5 linked regions of the Homo sapiens genome follow. The protein of the gene in region 1 interacts with the protein of each later gene in a biochemical or structural test. Each region holds a gene or a part of one and is shown in the gene's direction. Other genes may lie near its edges.

The links.
Region 2: the proteins of TAF1 (region 1) and GTF2E1 form a complex in vitro, tested with the Homo sapiens proteins (one study listed by BioGRID).
Region 3: the proteins of TAF1 (region 1) and LHX3 form a complex in vitro, tested with the Homo sapiens proteins (one study listed by BioGRID).
Region 4: the proteins of TAF1 (region 1) and PAX3 form a complex in vitro, tested with the Homo sapiens proteins (one study listed by BioGRID).
Region 5: the proteins of TAF1 (region 1) and TAF4B form a complex in vitro, tested with the Homo sapiens proteins (one study listed by BioGRID).

Annotation. Positions count from the first base shown.
Region 1 is NC_000023.11:71,382,519-71,387,229, forward strand, and holds part of TAF1 (transcription initiation factor TFIID subunit 1), read left to right. Parts: intron 1-17; coding exon 18-145; intron 146-242; coding exon 243-350; intron 351-472; coding exon 473-646; intron 647-1,443; coding exon 1,444-1,617; intron 1,618-2,426; coding exon 2,427-2,531; intron 2,532-4,711. UniProt on the Homo sapiens protein: The TFIID basal transcription factor complex plays a major role in the initiation of RNA polymerase II (Pol II)-dependent transcription.
Region 2 is NC_000003.12:120,748,878-120,753,588, forward strand, and holds part of GTF2E1 (general transcription factor IIE subunit 1), read left to right. Parts: intron 1-1,645; 5' UTR 1,646-1,675; coding exon 1,676-2,123; intron 2,124-4,711.
Region 3 is NC_000009.12:136,194,895-136,199,295, reverse strand, and holds the end of LHX3 (LIM/homeobox protein Lhx3), read left to right. Parts: intron 1-236; coding exon 237-388; intron 389-475; coding exon 476-644; intron 645-1,552; coding exon 1,553-1,971; 3' UTR 1,972-3,046; downstream 3,047-4,401. UniProt on the Homo sapiens protein: Transcription factor.
Region 4 is NC_000002.12:222,225,406-222,230,116, reverse strand, and holds part of PAX3 (paired box protein Pax-3), read left to right. Parts: intron 1-4,696; exon of another isoform or gene 4,697-4,711. UniProt on the Homo sapiens protein: Transcription factor that may regulate cell proliferation, migration and apoptosis. Involved in neural development and myogenesis. Transcriptional activator of MITF, acting synergistically with SOX10.
Region 5 is NC_000018.10:26,228,882-26,233,592, forward strand, and holds part of TAF4B (transcription initiation factor TFIID subunit 4B), read left to right. Parts: intron 1-4,711. UniProt on the Homo sapiens protein: Cell type-specific subunit of the general transcription factor TFIID that may function as a gene-selective coactivator in certain cells.

The DNA of each region.
Region 1 (4,711 bases):
TTTTGTTTTATTCTCAGAAATTCCTGATGAGAAGGAAGAGGCCACCTCTAACTCCCCCTCCAAGGAGAGTAAGAAGGAATCATCTCTGAAGAAGAGTCGAATTCTCTTAGGGAAAACAGGAGTCATCAAGGAGGAACCACAGCAGGTGTGTGAAGAAAAAAGGGGCTTGGTGTTTAGAAGAACAAAGAAAGGTAATAGAGAAGGATAGTCTGACCGAGATTTGTTTGATTATCTATCATTAGAACATGTCTCAGCCAGAAGTGAAAGATCCATGGAATCTCTCCAATGATGAGTATTATTATCCCAAGCAACAGGGTCTTCGAGGCACCTTTGGAGGGAATATTATCCAGGTACAAATAGTGTCTTTTCTGTGATAGAGGAGAACCCCATGGCTTTGTTCTGACGGAGGATATGGGAAAATCTTGCTTAGGATGGAATTAGCTAATTTTAACCCTTCTATTTCCTGTTTTAGCATTCAATTCCTGCTGTGGAATTACGGCAGCCCTTCTTTCCCACCCACATGGGGCCCATCAAACTCCGGCAGTTCCATCGCCCACCTCTGAAAAAGTACTCATTTGGTGCACTTTCTCAGCCAGGTCCCCACTCAGTCCAACCTTTGCTAAAGCACATCAAAAAAAAGGCCAAGGTATAATTGAATTCTGGTTAGAAAACAGCTATAAAGGATATTGGGGTATAAATTAAGGGAATGTACCAGGTATTAGATTGTATTAGGGAATTGGTTATTTTCTCAGATGTGATAGAATGTTATTTTGGTTATTTAGGAGAATGTCTTTATTGTTAGGTGATGCATGTGAAAATATTTAAAGGTGAGGTGTCAGAATGACTGCATCTTTCAAAAACTGTCCAGCAAAGTCTATAGAAAGATAAAAGTTTAAAAAAATGGCGAAATATAAACAGCGACGTGGGATAATAAGTGTTCATAGTACAGTCGTCCTTCGTTATCTCTGGGAGATTGGTTCTAGGACCTTCTCTGGATACCAAAATCTTTAGATGTTCCAGTTTCTGATAAAATAGCATAATATTTGCACATAACCTATGCACATCCTCTCCTATAGTTTAAATCACCTCTAGATTACTTATAATACCTACTCCAATGTAAATGCTATGTGAATAGTTGTTAACACTGTTATTGGTTAGGGAATAATGACAAGAAAAGTCTGTACCTGTTCAGCACAGATGCACTTGTATTTTCTGAATATTTTCTATCTATGGTTGGTTGAAATCACGGATGCAGAACCCATACATGGATATGGAGGGCCGACTGTACTATTCTTTGAACTTTACAGTATGTTTGAAAATTTTGATTATGAAATTGGAAAATAGGTAAAATGTTTTTGGTGTGTTTGTCTCAGATTGAACAACGTCATTGTGTGTAGTAGTGTCCTGTCAGGAGCTAGATGGTATTTTCTTTGTTCTGGACAGATGAGAGAACAAGAGAGGCAAGCTTCAGGTGGTGGAGAGATGTTTTTTATGCGCACACCTCAGGACCTCACAGGCAAAGATGGTGATCTTATTCTTGCAGAATATAGTGAGGAAAATGGACCCTTAATGATGCAGGTTGGCATGGCAACCAAGATAAAGAACTATTATAAACGGGTGAGTCTCTGCTCAGAAAATTTTTTTCCCATACATAATTCTGCTTATGCTTCCATAAACTTTTATGTACAAACTTTTTGTTATTAACATAGCTGTAGTGAGACAAACTGCAAACTTACATACAAATTTTTTATTATTAACGTAGCTGTAGTTAGAGATCTACTGGTAATCTGTGAACATATACCATAAATTTCTTGGGAGAAAGGAGTGGTACCTTTTTTTGTAGTTATAACATGTTGAGCATCTCAAATCTCAAAATTCGAAATCAAAATCCAAAACTTTTTTTTTTTTTTTGAGACTGAATCTTGCTCTTTTGCCAGGCTGGAGTGCAGTGGCATGATCTCCACTCACTGCAACCTCCACCTCCTGGGTTTGGGCAATTCTTCTGCCTCAGCCTCCTGAGTAGCTGGACTACAGGCGTGTGCCACCACACCCAGCTAATTTTTGTATTTTTAGTAGAGACAGGGTTTCATCATGTTGGCCAGGATGGTCTCGATCTCTTAACCTCGTGATCTGCCCGTCTTGGCCTTCCAAAGTGCTGAGATACAGGTATGAGCCACCATGCCCGGCCAATCCTAAACTTTTTGAGCACTATGATGATACTCAAATGCTCATTGGAGCATTTTGGATTTCCAGATTTGGGATGCCCAACTGGTAAGTATAATGCAACTATTCCAAAATCCGAAACACTTCTGGTCACAAGCATTTTGGATGAGGGATACTCAACCTGTATTAGTAAAGTGCTATGGTCATATTGTGTAGGATTATTGATATATTCTAAATAACTGGGTCTTCTGTGTTCCTTATAGAAACCTGGAAAAGATCCTGGAGCACCAGATTGTAAATATGGGGAAACTGTTTACTGCCATACATCTCCTTTCCTGGGTTCTCTCCATCCTGGCCAATTGCTGCAAGTGAGGAATTCTTTCCTGTTTTTACTGTTAACTAAGGAAATTGATAAATGAGGAACCAGTCAGCTCAGAAAGAACTATTATAATTCTAGTTGATTGAGATGCTTTAATTTTAAGTACAAAGAAAATAAGTATAATCCAAAAATGTTTTAAAGAAATCTTTTTCTTAAAACTGGCTGTGAATTGTGTTATTCTCAGGCTAAATGTAAAATAGGTTTTTAAAAATACACACTGGTAAGCTCAGTAACATCTGGGAAGCATAAGGAAGTCAACCTAGGATGAATTTACTATAAATTTACTATAATTTATGAATATTTAATTTTTGTGTATAAAATTGATAACATTTTGATCACATTAGCTGTGGTTATTGTGAATATTGAACCACACCTGAACTGTGCCATCTACAGTCCCCAGCCATAGTGAAATGCTTTTTTTTTCCCTCCTTTGTTCTAATGGGTGTAAAGAGGCTCTCTTATAACAGCTTTTATATATTCAAGGGGGGAAGTATGATGGTCCACAAATGATGTGGAAAATCTCTAGCACTCTCCCATCTTGTTTTTTTTCTCCATTTCATTTCTCTTGGCAATCTTAACCATTTGTCCTACTCTTATACCTAGTTTATTCTACTGTTGTTGTTGTTTATTCTCCTAAAGCATCTGCAAAGCTCAGTTTTTTTCTTTATCCTTTACATTCATAGTCTATTGCTAACCGGATGTTTAGTATCATCTTTGTATTGTTCTTCTCCTTTCCCTGGAACTTTCTGTTGAGGTTTTCTACCAATTCAGCCTCTTCTTTTGTGGCTACTTTTGTAGTCTCTTAAAGATCTTTTTCTGGCCGAGCGTGGTGGCTCACGCCTGTTAATCCCAGCACTTTGGGAGGCCGAGGTGGGCGAATCACCTGAGGTCAGGAGTTCGAGACCAGTCTGACCAACATGGAGAAACTCTGCCTCTACTCAAAATACAAAATTAGCCGGGCATGGTGGCACATGCCTGTAATCCCAGCTACTCGGGAGGCCGAGGCAGGAGAATCACTTGAACCCGGGAGGTGGAGGTTGCAGTGAGCCGAGATCGCGCCATTGCACTCCAGCCTGGGCAACAAGAGCGAAACTCCATCTCAAAAAAAAAAAAAAAAGATCTTTTTCTGTATTCTTCTGTAATTCTTTTTCTGCCTATATTTCACATGTAGAATTTTCTTTCCACACTCAGTGATGGTCTTCCCTCTTTCTGTCTACTCTTCTGATTTTCGGGGAAGGCTTTCCTTAGACTCAGGCTTCTTGTGACAGTTTATCCCTATCTTGCCTCTACTTAAACTGGCTCAAATGTTTCTGTTCAGCTGTCCTCTGTCCTACTGTCTTGTGTTTTCCTTTTGTTTTTTCCCAGCCTATTCTGTCTAGCACTCTTTCTACCTCATTGGTTGTTTTATGATTTATTTGTTTGGAGATAGGGTCTGGCTCTGTGACCCAGGCTGGAGTGCAGTGGCACGATCTTGGCTCACTGCAACTTCTGCCTCCTGGGCTCAAGCCATCCTCCTACCTCAGCCTCCCAAGTAGATGGGACAATAGGCGCACGCCACCACATCCAGCTAATTATTGTATTTTCTGTAGAGATGGGGTTTTGTCATGTTGCCGAGGCTGGTCTTGAACTCCTGAGGTAAAGTGATCTACCTGCCTCGGCTTCCCAAAGTGCTGAGATTACAGGCATGAGTCACTGTGCCCGGCGTTGTTTTGTTTTTTAATTAGTTTAATAATTTATTCAACAAATGTTGCTCTCACACGTTGTGTGTTGGGCTACACTGGGGTCTAGGGTAGTAGTATAGTACTTGGTACATTATGAAGTGATTTTCATATGTAATCTTCATAGCAGTCCTGTGAGGTATAGGCATTTTTAAGTATCTCTGTTTTGTAGATGAGGAAAACTAAACTTAGACATGTTAAATAGCTTAAATAGACATGTTAAATCATAGAGGTAATGGCAGAGCTAGCATCATCTGAATTCACATCCTGTATTTTCTCCCCTACTGACTCTGAAAGATAGTGGATGAAAAATTGTTTAGTCACATTTGATAATCTATATTTTAATTTATTTGTATTACTGGATAGACCTTAGATGGCGTAATTAAGATGGAGAGCAATAAGCTTGGTATTTCTTTCTCAGCAGTTGACTGAATTTCCTAGGGCTACTCTG
Region 2 (4,711 bases), on another chromosome or scaffold:
CATGAGCATGGAATGTTCTTCCATTTGTTTGTATCCTCTTTAAGTTCATTGAGCAGTGGTTTGTAGTTGTCCTTGAAGAGGTCCTTCACATCCCTTGTAAGTTGGATTCCTAGGTATTTTATTCTCTTTGAAGCAATTGTGAATGGGAGTTCACTCATGATTTGGCTCTCTTTTTGTCTGTTATTGGTGTATAAGAATGCTTGTGATTTTTGTACATTGATTTTGTGTCCTGAGACTTTTTGCTGAAGTTGCTTATCAGTTTAAGGAGATTTTGGGCTGAGACAATGGGGTTTTCTAGATATACAATCATGTCATCTGCAAACAGAGACAATTTGACTTCCTCTTTTCCTAATTGAATACCCTTTATTTCCTTCTCCTGCCTGATTGCCCTGGCCAGAACTTCCAACACTATGTTGAATAGGAGTGGTAAGAGAGGGCATCCCTGTCTTGTGCCAGTTTTCAAAGGGAATGCTTCCAGGTTTTGCCCATTCAGTATGATATTGGCTGTGGGTTTGTCATAGATAGCTCTTATTATTTTGAGATACGTCCCATCAATACCTAACTTATTGAGAGTTTTTAGCATGAAGAGTTGTTGAATTTTGTCAAAGGCCTTTTCTGCATCTATTGAGATAATCATGTGGTTTTTGTCTTTGGTTCTGTTTATATGCTGGATTACATTTATTGATTTGCGTATATTGAACCAGCCTTGCATCCCAGGGATGAAGCCCACTTGATCATGGTGGATAATAAGCTTTTTGATGTGCTGCTGGATTCGGTTTGCCAGTATTTTATTGAGGATTTTTGCATCAATGTTCATCAAGGATATTGGTCTAAAATTCTCCTTTTTGGTTGTGTCTCTGCCCGAAGCCCAGGTTTTTAAAGTAAACTATATGCCAATGTGGGCTTTGAGAAGACAGCTTTCTGGGTCATGGTACGGAAATGAGATACACTTAGTTTCTGCTTTGTCAAGGGATCCAGTATTTAAGAATATTTTGGGCTGCTCTCCCTCCCTCATTTTCTACCTTTTTAAGGACTGGATGGTCTTTCCTTGATTATCAGATTCAATTTTTCAAGGTTGGTAAAACTGTCTGGATCTAAGTATTACTTTCTTTCAGTTTTACAACAGTTAATGATTTTGTCAAACACCCCAGGTGGTGATTACTCATGTGTTTATTGGTTTGTTGTGATTTTATTGTGAAAGCATGACTATGTAAAACATCCTAGAATCTTGGTAGAAAAATTTTACTCAAGAAAGGAAACAAAGACACTTTTAGGAAATGCGAACTGCTAGTTTTCTCAGGGTTTCCAGCATTCCCAAAGAATAGTGAGCATTTCATGTAGCTTTTTTTGTGTTTCTCTTCTGAAGTAAAGTAGACTTGACGTAATATATTGTTTTATAAATAAAAAGTTACTTTTTAATCAAACACACTATAGATCATAAAAGTAGCCATTTAAGAAATATGTAAAGCTTTTTGGGTGTAATCTTTTGTGCATTCTAGAGGAAAATCTTGTTCTGCTCTGTTAAATGCTTAGGTATTAGAAATCTTTTTAAACACTTTGGGTACTTTTCTGGCACTGCAAGGATAGTGGATATGATTACCATGTTCTTATACCTGGCTAATTTTCTGTTTTTTTTTGAATTCAGTATATTTAAAGTTGGAGTTCGTTGCTAAAGATGGCAGACCCAGATGTCCTCACTGAAGTTCCAGCAGCATTGAAGCGGTTAGCCAAGTATGTGATCCGGGGATTTTATGGCATTGAGCATGCCTTGGCCTTGGACATCTTGATCAGGAACTCCTGTGTGAAAGAGGAGGATATGCTGGAGCTGCTCAAGTTTGATCGGAAGCAACTTCGATCAGTTTTGAATAATTTAAAGGGAGACAAGTTTATCAAATGCAGAATGAGGGTAGAGACTGCTGCAGACGGGAAAACCACTCGCCATAACTACTACTTCATCAATTATCGTACTCTTGTTAATGTGGTAAAATATAAACTGGACCACATGAGAAGAAGAATTGAGACCGATGAGAGAGATTCGACCAACCGGGCTTCCTTCAAATGTCCTGTCTGTAGTAGTACTTTCACAGACTTAGAAGCTAATCAGCTCTTTGATCCTATGACAGGTGAGGTTTATCCAGTTTGTGAATCTTTAAAATAAAGTGTGTATTACCTTTTTTCTTAAATTGATTCATCTAATTTTTAAACCATCATATATATTATTATAAAAGTGAATGGATCAGTGTAAATCACAGCATACAGTCAGTCTTACTGTCCTGTTTGGCTGTCGCACTACTTTGAGAAGCCTTTGCAAAGCGTTTCTCCTTTACAAGGGAGTTTCTCACTTATGGCCCTCCTGCCTCTGCCCACCCCACCTTGTTTACAACTGCAGCCTAATCTGAAGGGTTGATTTCTCTACCACTTTGAGGCTGTTCTAATTTTATTTTTGACCTCTAGACAGTTGCAATACAGTGTATTTAAATGCTTTGTTAGTGGAAGTAGAAAGTGGTATCAGGAGTATATAACTAGGGCATATAATCTGGATTTGGGGAAGGCCTCTGGAAGAAGTTAACATTTGAGACCTAAAAGATAGTAAGAGTTAGCTAGATGAAATAAGAGGGGAATTCTTTCCAAGATAAGACATTTAGTGTCCTTTAGATACACATTATTGTTGGAAGAAAATTGTCAACAAGATATATAATTGGCCTGATTTGATTGAATAGTTTTAAGGATTTTTCATAACACAATTTAGAAAGCATGCATTATCTGAAAATACAATATGTCTAGCATAAACATGAGAAACTTTAAAGTTCTGAGTTATATAGTTATTTTATCTTGTTATCTGTTTACACAATAAAAAAGAGACTAGTTTTGCTAAATACTCGATCAATTTTGTCTTATTTTCTACAGGTAAAAATCTATAGAAGGACTCAGTGCTATTAAATTAGATTAAGTCCCTTTGTTATGGTTGAATTCAGGAGTATAGGCTACTTTTTAGTTCATAGATCTGCTTTTTTAAAAACTTCGTCTGAAAGTTTAAACTTTGACCCATGAAATATTTGGTTGTGCAAAATTACAGATTTCTGTGTATGTTTTATTTTCTAATTTTTATGTTATATATGGTACATTTTAAATAATTAAAAAAAATTTTTAAGTGGGAAATAACCCCAATATAAATTAAGATTATTGACAAAAAGAGCCAGAAGCAATCTGTGACCTTTTTTTCTTATTTACTGTGAGGCAATGATTTTGGATGAAAACTGATTTAAGGAATTCACAATTGTATTAAACATTTAATTTGTCTGAGCCGAGCTTTTTACCTTGAAAGGGCTCCACAAGGAGAGATCTTGATTATAAGAAAGTCTTAACCATCCTCGGTATGAGAATTGCTTGAGTGTTCTATAGAGGAAGGTTGTAGAATATATCTGGAGCTCTTCAAAATAGACTAGAAAAGTCTCATGATTCTTGCCATTCACTCTAACAGATTTCTTACAGGAGCTCTGGGTTCTTGGTTTTGTAATTCTCTACAGATGTTGGTTTTAACAGTGGAGGCTTCATCACTCTTGACCACAGTAGAAGGTGTTATCCAGTCCCTTAGAGTAATCTAAAATAACATGCTTCTACTACATTTATTTGTCATTTGAGTCATATTAATTTAATTAAACTTTCTAAAAGGAGATGATTCCACTACTTATATATCAGTATTTGGGAGACTGATCATGATACTCTTGAATTTCACCTGGATTCTGAATGAAACTAGTTGACTCAATAGATGGCCTGTGGAAGAGATGGCCTAACATTCCATCCAGTACAGTCAAGGTGACTTGAATCAAGGAGTTAGGGTAGAGGGCATGAAAGTATTTTATGAAATAAAGCTAAAACTGAAACAATTGTGTTGTGGCCAGTCTGAACAAAGACTATTTTTAATGTGAGGGCTATGGTCAGCATGAAGATGAAAAGAAGGGGTGCCTGAGAGCAAGAATAAGCCACTTAATCTTAATGTCACTCAGGGGAGGGTGCCCTGGTCAGCCAACACTAATGCTTAATTGGCAGTTATGTCCTACAGTAAAGCCTGAGGTATCATGATTAAAAATTTATAATCATTAGGGACCCTCATTCTGAGAACATACTTGCCTTTTTATTGTAACGTGGCTTTTCATTTAGATGCTCCTTTAAGGAGAAAATGTGCTGATTAGGTGATATTAGGCTCTAGTTTGCCAGTTCTGATGTTTTGAGTTTTGTTTTTGTTTTTTTTTTTAAACTATTAATACCCAACAACTTCCTTTGGTCTGTACATTCCTTTTAGAAATCTTTGTGTTTTTCTCTATTATTCTTTCTTGTTTTGCTCGGTATTCATCTCTCTGTCCTCTCCTCTACTCCCACCCCATTATGAAGAAGATGGGCAATAAAAATTTGGTGTGTGTAGTAAGGAAGGAGGGAACTTTTTCTGCTGTAATAATTATGCCTTGTCTAAATTGGTAGATTGTAGTTTTCTTTCTAAGCCCAGTCCTGTACAAATACCCAGTTTCTTGGTTGCTAGAGGAGATTGATAATATTTCTGATCAAGTGATGGAAGTATTTAATGGCCTTCTACCTCCATTTCTTTTCAATAGTTCTTAGATTGACTTATGGTTTACATAAGCAATTAGGGGATATTCAGAAATTGGATTTGAAGCCTGCTAGATTTTACTGTTTTCCCTGACAAAAGGTGCTT
Region 3 (4,401 bases), on another chromosome or scaffold:
CCGCCCCCGCCCCCGCGGCAGAACCCGCCCTCCGCCGGCGCCCCCTCCACCCCAGCCCGGGTGCTGCCCGTTTTTGCCAATCGCTCCCAGCGCCCGCGCCTTCCGAGAAGCCTGTGGGGCGGGATGGGGGTGGGCACCTGAGGCCCCGACGTCCCCGCGCCGGCCGGGGTGGGAGGGCTGGGGGTCCGGCCGGGGCCGGAGGGGCTGCCGCGCCTCACCGCTCGCCCGCCGCGCAGAGGCCGAGGCCACGGCCAAGCGGCCGCGCACGACCATCACCGCCAAGCAGCTGGAGACGCTGAAGAGCGCTTACAACACCTCGCCCAAGCCGGCGCGCCACGTGCGCGAGCAGCTCTCGTCCGAGACGGGCCTGGACATGCGCGTGGTGCAGGTCAGCGCTCGCCCCTGCTTCCCTCCCGCCCGCGGCCTTGGGGGCCCCCGCAGAGCCGGGCGGCCGCTCACCCCGCCCCGCCCCCAGGTTTGGTTCCAGAACCGCCGGGCCAAGGAGAAGAGGCTGAAGAAGGACGCCGGCCGGCAGCGCTGGGGGCAGTATTTCCGCAACATGAAGCGCTCCCGCGGCGGCTCCAAGTCGGACAAGGACAGCGTTCAGGAGGGGCAGGACAGCGACGCTGAGGTCTCCTTCCCCGGTAGGCGGAGGGATCGCGGAGCTCGGGGGGGGACGAGCGCGCGTCGGCGGGGTCGCAGGGGTCCCAGGGAGCCCGCGGATCTGAATTTCCCATGGAGTTAGTGGACTCCTTAAGTTCTACTTTCAAAAGCATTTCACTTACAGAACCTGCTCCCCCAGCACCCTCCCCGCCCTGGGTGGCCACTCCGGACCACTGCTTTTCCCCTGGTGGGGACACAATCCCTGTGGCCCGACCTGTCCCCAAGCTGGGCGCCTACGGGCTTTCTCATGGGGGGGTGGGCGTGTCCAGGCCGTCTCTCTGGCTCCTAGCCCTTGCAGTGATTTTTAGGAGAATGGGCAGTGCATTTCGGGAAAGACTGAGTCGAAGTCCCAGCTGCTTGGAGTTGGGGGAGGGGGCTACCTGGGGTCAGGGAGAGAAGGTTCCATACCCTTCTGTGGGGCCTGGATTATTTATTTCATTCTCCGGGCACCGGGGATGCTGCGTCCCCATCTGTTGATGCCCATCCTCAGAATGTGGACAAGACACTCTCTTTTGGGCTGCCTCGTGACCCGGGCTACTCACTCAGCCACTCTGGAACTAAATATCCTTGTCTGCAAAATGTGGGTGGTGGTATCTGTGCCCCCTTCCTAGGCTGCTGTGGGGCTGGTCCTGAAAGCCTGGGCCCTGGCTGGGCTGTTCCTGACTCTGATCCCACCAGGCCTGAGACACCTGGGCTGACTCAGGGGTGAGGGCAGTGGAGGGGCAGGGGCAGCCATGCTCCAACAGTAGAAGGGGCCTGTTATGACCTGTCATGTGGTGTGGGGCAGCCACTCTTTCTCCGACCCAGGGGTGCCTCCGCCTGCAGGATGGGACTCTGAGGGGCCGCAGGTGGAGGGCAGGCGCTGACTGAGCCTCTGCTTCTGTTGCAGATGAGCCTTCCTTGGCGGAAATGGGCCCGGCCAATGGCCTCTACGGGAGCTTGGGGGAACCCACCCAGGCCTTGGGCCGGCCCTCGGGAGCCCTGGGCAACTTCTCCCTGGAGCATGGAGGCCTGGCAGGCCCAGAGCAGTACCGAGAGCTGCGTCCCGGCAGCCCCTACGGTGTCCCCCCATCCCCCGCCGCCCCGCAGAGCCTCCCTGGCCCCCAGCCCCTCCTCTCCAGCCTGGTGTACCCAGACACCAGCTTGGGCCTTGTGCCCTCGGGAGCCCCCGGCGGGCCCCCACCCATGAGGGTGCTGGCAGGGAACGGACCCAGTTCTGACCTATCCACGGGGAGCAGCGGGGGTTACCCCGACTTCCCTGCCAGCCCCGCCTCCTGGCTGGATGAGGTAGACCACGCTCAGTTCTGACCCAGGCCCGGCTCCACCCTGCACCTCACACGAGGGAGCTGCCCCTGGGTGGGCGGCTCGGGGCTGCTGGGGTTTCCGAGGAAGTGGGGCCAGGGCGTCAAGGGAGGGCTGGTGCCTTCGGAGCCTCCCACTGCCGACCGCACAGCTCCCTCTCTGGGGGCTGAGGGACCCACCTGGCCCCTCCTCTGACACAGGGCTGGCCCGCCAGGTGGCCTCCCAGCAAGCCAGCCTTTTTTGTAAGCAAATTTCTCCCCTTTATTGACCAATTAACTGAGCACTTGCTGCTATTTCTAGACATGAAATGTCACCTTGCTGAGGCCCAGCCCAGCCCAGCATAGCCCGAGGGCTGGAAAAACGCTTTCATCTCTAAAACTGAGAAATCATCATAATTGTGCTTTCACTTCCCAGGCTCCATGTGTCTTGGAGCCGTCACCCCGAGGCTCCCTCTTTAGGTCGGAGATTGGCCTTGCCTGTCGAGGCAAGAGGCTGCAGAGGCGGGGACACACCTGTGTCCTCCGGGAGAGGCCCCCTCCTCTCCCCAGACCACAGGGGGCCTCTCTGCCTCCAGCCCCACCTTCCCCGGGAGAAGCTTTCCCCAATCCCCAGGTCTCTAGATCATTCTGTTCTCGAGTATCCTGTGGAGGAGGCAAAAATGCCTGGCGCCCCTTCTCTCCAAGCTCAATTCTCTAAGCCCCTCAGGGTCTCCTCCTCACCCCACCCCAGGCCCTTGGTGTCCAGGCTGCACCCACAGATGTCTGTTGCCAAACAGCCTGCCCTCCCTGCCGGAGCCGGCTCTGCCAGCCCCAGATTGGGAAGTCTCCCCGCTGGAGAAGGGTGGGGCTCCTCTGAGCCTGCCCTGCCTCCTCCATCAGATCCTTTGGGAAGAAGTTTCTGGGAGATGCCCGCAGCTGTGCGTGCCCCAGACACAAAGGCTGGCCTGTGTGTAAGTCAAAGTCACTCCCGCAAACCTGAATCTCGAGCTACCTATTGGTTCTGTGAATGTTCTGTGTCTTTTATTTATTCTCGGGTGATCAGCTCTTTCCAAGACTTCAATAAATTTGTCAGTTACAGTCAATGGAAGGCCCGCGTTTTTTTGAGGCTGCGGGGGTTGGGGAGTGTTGGGTGTGGGGAACATTCTGTGAATGTTGAGAGGCAGCCCTGGAGGGGCCCTGAGTCCCCCTAGTTCGTTGCTTGGGCTGGCACCTAGTATGAATTTGGGCTCTCTTTATCCCTGGATCTTGGCCATGCTCATGAGCACTGGAAGGAGGTGGGGGGAACAGCCCATCCCTTCCTGATGGAGGGGAGGGGTTGCGGTCTCCACACCCTGTCCCTGGGAGAGGCAGGGGTTGGGATGTCCAGAGAGCATGATGGGGGTGGGAGGTGGGCCGTGTGTGCCATTCACAGCTTGCAGCTGGCACCAACCCCAGGACATAGGCTGGTAGGGTGACCAGGCTCATGGTCATGGAAGTCTCTCCAGCTTGGATTCCAATCCTGGCTCTTCTAACTTGCTGTGTGACCCTGGGCTGGGGGCTGGAACCCTCTGAGCCCTGCTTCCCCGTCCCCACCCCCCAACCCCCCCAACCCCGCCGCCGCCGTAAAGAGAAGACAGTGATGACAGTCCCCTCAGAGGGCAGAAAGAAGTTGTATGCGCCCCACCCCCACCCCCAGGTAAGTGCTCCTATAGGGGCAGTGGTAGAAGCAGGCAGGGTTGGCCCTTCCACCTCGGCCTTCCCTCCTGCAGGAAGGAGGGCTGGGCCTCCTCCCTGAGGGTCTCTTCCTCTGAGGGGGTCTCCCTGGAGCAGAGTGGGGGCTGGAGGGAGGAGGCCCCTTGGAGCCTGGGCTCCCTATTTCTCAGTGGACGGGGAGGGAAGGTGGAGGAGTCCCCATGCCTTTCATGGGGACCTTTGCACTGGCCTCAGTTCCCCCAGTAAGGGTGCGGAGGCCCCTCCAGAATGTGGCCAAGGGAAGCTGCTCTGAGCTGCAGACTTCCAAGTCTCTCCAGGACCAGCCATCTTTTGGGGGGAACTGGTTGGGACCAGTTGTGTGGTTTTTTTTTAAATGGAGTTTTGCTCTTGTTGCCCAGGCTGGAGTGCAATGGCGTGATCTCCGCTCACCACAACCTCCGCCTCCTGGGTTCAAGCGATTCTCTTGCCTCAGCCTCCCAAGTAGCTGGGATTACAGGCGCGCAGCACCATTCCCAGTTTTGTATTTTTAGTAGAGACAAGGTTTCACCATGTTGGCCAGGCTAGCCTCGAACTCCTGACCTCAGGTGATCCACCCGCCTTGGCCTCCAAAAGTGCTGGGATTACAGGTGTGAGCCACCGCACCTGGCCAAGGGAACAGTTGTCTTTTAAGGGACGTCCTTTTCATCGTTTCGGGATGTGTGTCAGGCACATCCTCTTCTGAGTCCCACAGCGGCCTCTCCTCTCA
Region 4 (4,711 bases), on another chromosome or scaffold:
GAAGCCTACACCTCCTGAGCTCAGGTGATCCTCCCACCTCAGCCTCCCAGATAGTTGGGGCTACAGGTGCATGCCACTATGCCTGGATAATTTTTTGAAGAGATGGGATTTTGCCATGTTGCCCAGGCTCTTCTTGAACTCCCAGGTGCAAGCGATCCACTTGCCTTGGCTTCCCAAAGTGCTGGGATTATAGGCATGAGCCATTGTGCTGGGCCCAGAGGGCAGATTTAAGATGAACTTTCCGGGCTAGATAGATATTCACTGGACCAGGTGCATAAGGAGAGTATATTAGTAATAGGGAATTATATGAGCAGAGGCACAGAGAGGTAGAAGTGGTGGGCTACACGTAAGATAACCTTTCTTTTTCACTCTAGTCATATTGGGAGAATAGTTAGTTTGATTAGAATGTAAGGAGTGGTAGGGTGGTGGAAGAAATAGGGTTTGGTAGGTAGGCTGAGGATATCCTATGGAGGTCTTGGGTTTCAGGCCAGTGAGCTCACATTTGATGTGACAGGGAGTGGGGGCTATGGCATGAGATAGGTAGTGGCAGTGGGAATGGCAAGGAAGAGATGGTGGTGAAGGTATTCAGAGGTAGAATGGACAACCGATTGTGTAATCTAGAAGTGGGGAGGAAGGTGAGTGAAAGGAAGAGTTGTAGATAGACCAAGGTTCACAGAGCTGGTGTTTTAAAGTTGGGAAACCTATTATCATTGGGAAACAGAGTGTTTCTCCCCACCACACAGTGTAGAAATAACCTTTATTAACTAAGTCATAATATTTCAATAGAAAAATATTTTAATACAGTATTGATATAGTAATATTATATAATACTATATAAATATTATATTAACATAACATTAATATTACTATATCAATGTTATGATATTAACATGCATATTAATATAACAGTGCAGAGAAAAAATCTGTATCACAATCAAAAGGGCAGACAAATTAAATCATATAATAGTATATTATATATAACAATGTTATAAATAATATGTTTCAAATCTACTTTGCTTTTATTATAGTTCTGCAATTACCTGCAAATGTTATGTGAGGTCCAATCATGCCTCTTTTGAGTGGCCACTATATTCCAGGATTTGGTACCTGTCCTCTGTAACTGGCCAAGCCCACCTACTAGATCTGCTTTTTTGTTTGTTTGTTTGTTTGTTTTTTGAGACAGAGTCTCACTTTGTTGCCCAGCCTGTAGTACAGTGGCTTAATCATGGCTCACTGTGTAGCCTCGATCTTCCAAGCTCAAGTGATTCTTCCACCTCAGCTTCCAGAGTAGCTGGGTCTACAGATGTGTGCCACCATGTCTGGCTAATTATTTTTCTATTTTTTTGTAGAGCTGGGGTCTTGCTATGTTGCTCAGGTTGGTCTTGAGCTCCTGGACTCAAGTGATCCTCCCTCCTCAGCGTCTCAAAGTGTTGAGATTACAGGTGTGAGCCACTGGCACTAGATCTATTTTTAAAATAGGCCGAGTATCAGCTCTGAACTCAATGTGAGTAAGGAAAAATAAACATTTATTGTAAATAGATCAGACAAGGAGTGTGATGGAAAACTGAGGAGTGTTCGGTGTTGTTCTCTTTCATTCCTGCCTTTGTCAAAACTAAGGATGGAGACAGAATATATTTCAAACCCATGTAGCTTGTACAGCACCCAGCATTCTCATCTGGCTCAATGAATGTCAAAGGATAATAATAATGGCCCATTAACTTTCAGAGGACATGGGATCAAACCAATAAACAGTAGTTCATACTTTTCCATATAGTGACCTCCTCTTCGAAGCAGGGCCTTCATTAACGTAACAGCTGTCTTAATGTGGCTTTAACCCGGTGACTCTTGACATTCCTTATGGCTTCTTTAGTTCCCTTGAGACACATCATGGCTGGCACCACGGCTGTGATCTATAGCCTAACAAATTCCCTAGAACACCCAGCATATGGATCTTTTACTTAACCCAGCAGGAAAAAGAAGGGAGTAGTTAATCACTGATTAAAATGCCAGAAGAAAATCCTTTAGTTTTTAGAGGATCTGGGAAAGCAGTAGCCAAGTCAACTCAGTTTGAGTGATAGCCAGAAAGTGTGAGTTAGTTTAATTTGGGGCACCTGGGAAAACCAAACACGAAACACCCCCCAAACCCCAAATCATGTCTACATTTCATTTTTTTTCTCCTGAGGAAAAATATTTCTACACTCTTCTAAATAGAAATGGGACTAAAGCTATAATAACTTTAGCCTCTGTCAGTGTTTTATATAAATTCATTTAGGCTGTAGCTGTGTTGAGTTTATCATAACCAAATCTGAGTACACAATGTAAGAACTGTTGTATACTAACGACTATTTGCCTAGTAATAATAACACTACAAGGTTTTTTTTTTTTTTAAAAAAGATGATTTGCCTAATTCATCTGTAATGAGGGTAGCTGTTATTAATATCATGCAAATAATGACAAACATTCAAGTTTTGTGGGGAGGAATTACTTGCAAATATTAATTAATTAATTATTTTTTGAGACAGGGTCTCACTCTGTTGCCTGAGCTGGAGTGCACTGGAGTACAGTGGTGCGATCTCTGCTCACTGCAACCTCTGCCTCCTGGGCTCAGATGATCCTCCCGCCTCAGTCTCCTGGGTAGCCGAGACTACAGGCTTGTGCCACCACACCCAGCTAATTTTTGTATTGTAGAGATGCGGTTTCACCATGTTGCCAAGGCTGGTCTCAAACTCCTGGAATCAAGTAATCCTCCTATTTTTTGGCCTCCCAAAGTGCTGAGATTACAGGTGTAAGCCACTATGTCTGGCCCAAATATTTATGATGTGCAAAAGTTTTAGTAAATATTCCATCTAAGAATCCCATGAAGTAGGCAAGTAACATCCTGTTTTACCACGAAGACAATGGAAGACAGAAAAACAAGTTACTAGGGGAAATAGAATTTAACTAGGAGTCAGATGATATGGGTTTCGTTCCCAGTTGACAAATGTGTTTTGTTGAGCAAGTTACTTAATCTTGCTGGAATCCTTTTGGACTTCAGGTTTTTAATTTTTTTAATTTAAAAAAATATGGGGTTGGTTAGATCACATGATCTCAGCTGGGGTTCATGCCCCACCAGGATAATCATGGGTGGACTTCAGGAGATCTGGGAGATTTGAGATTTGTACACAAAATTTTGCTCCTTTGCTTGTGTATGTGTATATACAACTGTTAACTAGAGAAAGGGCCTCTGGCTTTCATTATGTGCTCAAATACCTTTCTCCCATGCCCAAATTAAAAACTAGTAGAACGCATGATTTCTCAGGACCCTTATAGCATCAGTAATTTAGGATTCCCAAAAAATAACAATGGTGATTCCCAAGGGTCCTGAGAAATCATGCATTTTGGGAATGACCCAAATGCATAATTTCTCAGGACCCTTGGGAATGAGAAAGGGAATGAGAATATGGCAGAATCCTTATAGCATCAGTAATTTGGAATTCCTAAAAAAGCACCATGATGATTTGAAGCCGTCTAACTGATCTGTATAGTTCAGAAGTTCAGATAGGTATAGAATATCCTAAGCTCCGTAATGAAGCAAACATATGTTCATCCTGAAGTTCTCTGCAGGAGTTTGCTTTTGGGAGGTATCAAGATGCAGTTGAGTGTGCTTTTGTGTGTGTCCATGGTCTTTTCACATGCATGGGAGCATGGCCTTCCTCCTGTTCAATCTTGCCCATCCTGTTTCCAACCTGCTCTCCAAATGGTGGCCAAAGTTGGATAGCAGCAGTGATTGGAAGGCTGGGAGAACCTTTCATAGAAAGAGAAAGGAGGTGAGAGTGAAGGAGAAGGTCCAGGGAAATGAGCAGCTTGCCCTGAATTTCCCTACTTGGAAAGTACTGTACTTGGCATGTCAGCATTCGACATCCTGAGTCTAGTATTTAACCAAACGTTTTACAATCTTGTTGCGAATTCTCTTTCTAAGGATTAACTATTATGTTCTCTCCCCATTTTTCAAATTGCATTTGAAGTAATCCGTCTTGAATAATGTAGGCTGAATTGCCTTTGAGAACACCACCAAAAATGTGAACCAGTAATTTATTGATGGGCAAAATTAGGCTGACACCAAGGGACAATTAGCACTAATCCATGAAACTTGGAAGCAAATTTGACCTAAGCCTCCATTCAAGTCAAACCGGCTTTCAATTATTTGAGGTGTTTTCTGGGCACTTTCCTGTTTACTCACAGACACAAAAGGCTTTGGCTGGACACCACAGAGTGAAGGAAGCAAAACAGAGCTTCAATTCTTGGTTTTCTCAGATAGAAGTGTCAGTGTGAGACTTTCTATTTAATAGCTAGCATTTACTGAACATTTAATATCTCCTTGGTATTCTTTTAGAAGCTTAGATTGCATTGCATTTTTAATAGTCACAACAATCTTGTGAAGTAGTTTTTATATTCCCCGTTTAGCACATGGGAAAACAGAGACCCCCAGATATTAAGCAAATTGTTCATGGTCACAGAAGTATTAATATAAATGAGGAGCTGAGATTCAACTTTTGCCTGGTCTGTATTGCACACATGTGAATAAGATGTATTGTTGTATCTTTACTGTAGAAAGTACTAGTTTCCCCGCCACCCGCCAACTTGTAATGTTGAGAGTCTGAACAAACTGGTTTGCTTACTCATAAAAAGTATGAAAATTTCTTTTCTAATTATTATCTTTTTTTCCTAGTTA
Region 5 (4,711 bases), on another chromosome or scaffold:
AAATTATTTATATTCTTTTATTTGTTGGTCATAATAGGTAGGTAGCAAATAAGGAAAGAGGTCTCTAAGAGTAAATAATTTGTCCAATGCCAGGCAACCCATAGGTGTCGGGGGAGTTTTAGCTCAGGTCTGTTTATTCTTTCCACAACGCTATGCTTATTTTTTTACTTGTATGTGTACGGTATGCCTCATTGAGTGTCAGTACTGAAAGGTGATTCAGAGAACTTTAGATTCCAGTCTTTTATTTTATATACCAAGGAACCAAAACTGAAACTTGGCAGAGTTAAAATAATAGCATACTAGGACCATAGTCTAATTATGTTCCTAGCACTGTATTAAAACATTGCATGCTATTTACCTCTGAGAAACCCATACAAAAGAGAGAAAGAAGATAAGTTGTCTTTAGGAATTGGTCGTTATAGAGGAAGTGGGGATTTGCTTTTGGGAATTTTCTGCTGACGTGTGGCAGAAGGGTGTACTAACTACATTTGTGCTCTTATTGGATAGAATAAGATAACCAATAGTTGAAGAATAAAATGGAAACACTGATTAAAGTAACTTTTTAAAAAGGTTATGAATCTTATACTATTTCTTTTATATCTTTCTTTCTTTCTTTTTTTTTTTTTTTTTTCTTTCTCTGAGACGGAGTGTCACTCTGTTGCCCAGGCTGGGGTGCAGTGGCATAATCTCGGCTCACTGCAACCTCCGCCTCCCGGGTTCAAGCAATTCTCCCGTCTCAGCCTCCCGAGTAGCTGGGATTACAGGCACACGCCACCATGCTCGGCTAAATTTTGTATTTTTAGTAGAGATGGGGTTTCACCATGTTGGCCAGGCTGGTCTCGAACTCCTGACCTCAAGTGATCAGCCTGCTTCGGTCTCTCAGAGTGCTGGGATTACAGGCGTTAGCCACTGCGCTGGCCTGAATCTTGTACTATTTCCTTTGCATACCAAGAATTAGCACTTGATTACACAAGGGTGCTTATATATGTCAGTTCTTCATTTTTCAAGATAATGAATACTTTAAGTATTTGATTCTCTTTACTTCAGAGTTTCATCTATGAACAGAACTGGTTTAAAAAAAAAATATATATATATATACACACACACACACACATATACATATATATGCACCACAGGTTTTTCTAGGGAGCAGGAGCTTGAAATAAAAAGAATGCACAAGAGAATATTTGAGGAAATATTAATAAAAGGTTTTCAGTAATTTCTTCAGTCTTTTGTGAACATGTGGGGTTTTAGGCTGAACTGTGGTTCTTCTTGATATTCTTCATCTTGTCTATCACCTGTTTGAGAATGATAAGCAAGGACTTGATTCCTTCTTTTAGGTCATAAACTGGGATAAATTCTGCATGACAGTCATACTGTACAAAAGTGTGAAAGTTACTTATGAAGCAGTGAGGTCCCTTTTCATCAGCCTGTTTTCATGCTGAGACAGGGCATAGAATTTGCATCTCCTTTCCCAACTTCTTGATCCAGTCCTTGGATAAGTTCTTTGTTTCCACTCTGGCTTTATCAAAGGGATACAGTGTACATGATCATCACTTCCACAGTTGTCACAGTGCTGCTGGGCTTTGTGAAATGAGGGGTATTCTTTTCAGTGTTCACCATACACCATCCACTGTTTGATTTTCAGACTGTAGAGTTGGCGTAAAGTGATAGTGGCCATGGCATTACTCTGTCGGTAGTCAGCCCACAGGAGAAAGTGCTGGTGCTCCTCTCCTGCGGATCTTCCTCAAGGTGAGGTTAGGTTCTCCTGTTACGTGTTTCCATTTGGATGCCGTGCTTTCACTCTCATAGTACTCCCACACTTTGTTTTCTTTTTGATTACAAGGTCCTTTTTGATTACAAGTCCCTGCTTCTGTAATCAGGGACTCTATGTCGCTATTATCTATCCTCAGGGCCTAGTGAGTTGTGCACGAAGGCGCTCAAGTATTTGAATGTAGGCATATATGGAGAGAGTAGGGGGCAATAGGGCTGCAGCCCCTAAGGGATTCTGAGGGTCATCACACATATCAGTGTGTTGAGTTTTGATTTCTTTGCTTATTCTACTTACAAAAGCAGTATATGTTCATGTGAAAATCACTAAAATGTAATTTCCTCTTCAAAGTAATTGACAAACTTGTGGTGTGTTGTTTTGCTTTTTTTTTTTTTTTTTTTTTTTTTGATGGATTTTGCCCTTGTTGCCCAGGCTGGAGTGCAATGGTGCAATCTTGGCTCACCACAACCTTTGCCTCCCGGGTTCAAGCGATTGTCCTGTCTCAGCCTCCTGAGTACCTGGGATTACAGGCATGCGCCACCACCCTTGGCTAATTTTTGTTGTATTTTTAGTAGAGATGAGGTTTCTCCATGTTGGTCAGGCTGGTCTTGAACTCCCAGCCTCAGGTGATCCGCCCACCTTGGCCTCCCAAAATGCTGGGATTACAGATGTGAGCCACCCAGCTGCTTGGGGTTTTTTTTTTTTTTTTTTTTTTTTGGAGACAGAGTCTCACTCTGTTGCCCAGGTTGGAGTACAGTGGCATGATCTCAGCTCACTGCAACCTCTGCCTCCTGGGTTCAAGCAATTCTCATGTCTCAGCCTCCAAGTAGCTGAGATTACAGGTGTGTGCCACCACACCAGGCTAATTTTTTTCTTTTTAGTAAAGACAGGGTTTTGCTAAGTTGGCCAGGCTGATCTTTGAACTCCTGGCCTCAAGTGATCTGCTGATCTCAGCCTCCCAAAGTGCTGAGACTGCAGGCATGAGCCACTGTGCCCCGTCTATTGTGTCTTTTAAGTATTAGTGTGTCCAGAGTTGGTTCCTTCTGGTGGGTTTGTGGTCTTGCTGACTTCAAGAATGAAGCCGTGACCTTGGCGGTGAGTGTTATAGCTCTTAAAGATGGCACAGACCCAAAGAGTGAGCGGTAGCAAGGTTTATTGTGAAGAGCAAAAGAACAAAGCTTCCACAGTGTGGAAGGGGACCTGAGCGGGTTGTTGCTGCTGGCTGGAGTGGCCAGCTTTTATCCCCTTATTGGCCCCTCCCACGTTCTGTTTCTTTCCTATCCGAGTGCACTTTTTTCAGTTCTCCCTGTGATTGGCTACTTTTAGGATCCTGCTGATTGGTGCATTTTACAGAGCGCTGATTGGTGCATTTTATAGAGCGCTGATTGGTGCATTTTACAGAGTGCTGGTTGGTGCATTTTAGAATCTTCTTGCTAGCTACAGAGCACTGATTGGTGTGTTTTTACAGAGTGCTGATTGGTGCATTTTACAATCCTCTCGTAAGACAGAAAAGTTCTCCAAGTCTGCAGTCAACCCAGGAAGTCCAGCTGGCTTCACCTCTCAATCTCCCCCCACCCCCGTCTAAACAGGACACCCCAGCTGCTGTTGGGAATTGGGTGATGACCGCTCTAGTTACTTCTTGCTGGATAGGGGCGAAGAAGGGGCCCTGCAGTTGTAGTGTCCTCTGGAGGTGAATTCTCTAGGCCAGTCAAAGGGCCAGTGGGTTGGTCCAGGGGTCCTCAGTAGAAGTTGTGAGTTGAGCTCATTTGGGGTGCCATTTGTAAGACCATCTGTAGCTTGATGGCCTCGATCCTGAAGGAAACAAATTTGACAAGGAGATTAAAAACACAGGGCCTGAAGGCGAGTAATAGCAAGATGGCTGTCACAGGACCTAGAAAGGGGAGAAGCCATGTCGCCCAACTCCAGAGGTTGGGATGAGTTTGAAAGCCATTGTCTGATTTCAGAAGCCTTTTCCTATAAACACCTGGTGGCATCTCGTACTATCCCTGACTGGTTAGTATAAAAGCAACACTCTTCCCCTAAGAAGGTACAAAGTCCTCCTTTCTCAGCAGTGAGGAGGTCTAGGCCTCAGCGGTTTTGGAGAGTCACTGCTGCCAAACAGTCTATTTGGGATTGTAGAGTAAGGATAGATTTTGTTATTTCTTGCAAACTGTCTGAGAAATCCTTTGAGAGTGTGTGGTAGTAGGATAATGAAGTAGATAAACTGGCTATTCTGGTTCCTGTAGTGGTGGCCATTCCTAACCCTATAAGTAGTGGTATTAGTTGTATGGCCCTGCGCTGATGGACTTGAGCTTTGAGGGGCACTGATAGGGTCTGATTTCCTGGGGCAATGTCAATGTTGGGACTTAGGAAGACTAAGGTGCAGGTGCCTGTCTAGTTGGTGGGGAGGCAGATATAGGTTGAAGTTCCACATAAGAAGAATATGGCTTCGCTGGGTAGACAGAACTGGTTGTGTATGTTAAAAAGGTGTGTGAATTTGTTGTTTTCATTTTCCCATACTCCTAAAGTACTTGCCAAGGTAGCTCTGGTGAGCGGCTGGGAAGGGGTGTTGGGAGCAAACTGAGTGGCTCTCTGTGTTCTATTTTCCCATTGGAGAAAAAACCGTTTTGTATCTACTAGGAAGCATTCAAGAAAGTAATTGAAAGAAGGGAGGAGAAGGCATTCACTAGCGGTGGGGGCGCTGCTGCAGGGGGTCCAGAGGTGAATGGTCATGCAGGGAGTATGTTTGCCATGACAAAACCCGGACTGTTTGTTAAGCAGGGAGGAAGTGATGATTTTTGGAGGCCCTGTGAAGCAGACAGGCCATCTGAATGGAGCTGTTTGGGTGACTCAGAAGTTACTATGATCAGTTGGGGCTTGAAGTTGTAGGGTGTAATTATGCTGATGGGATAGTAGGTGCCCCAGGGGCAGGCCTGATAA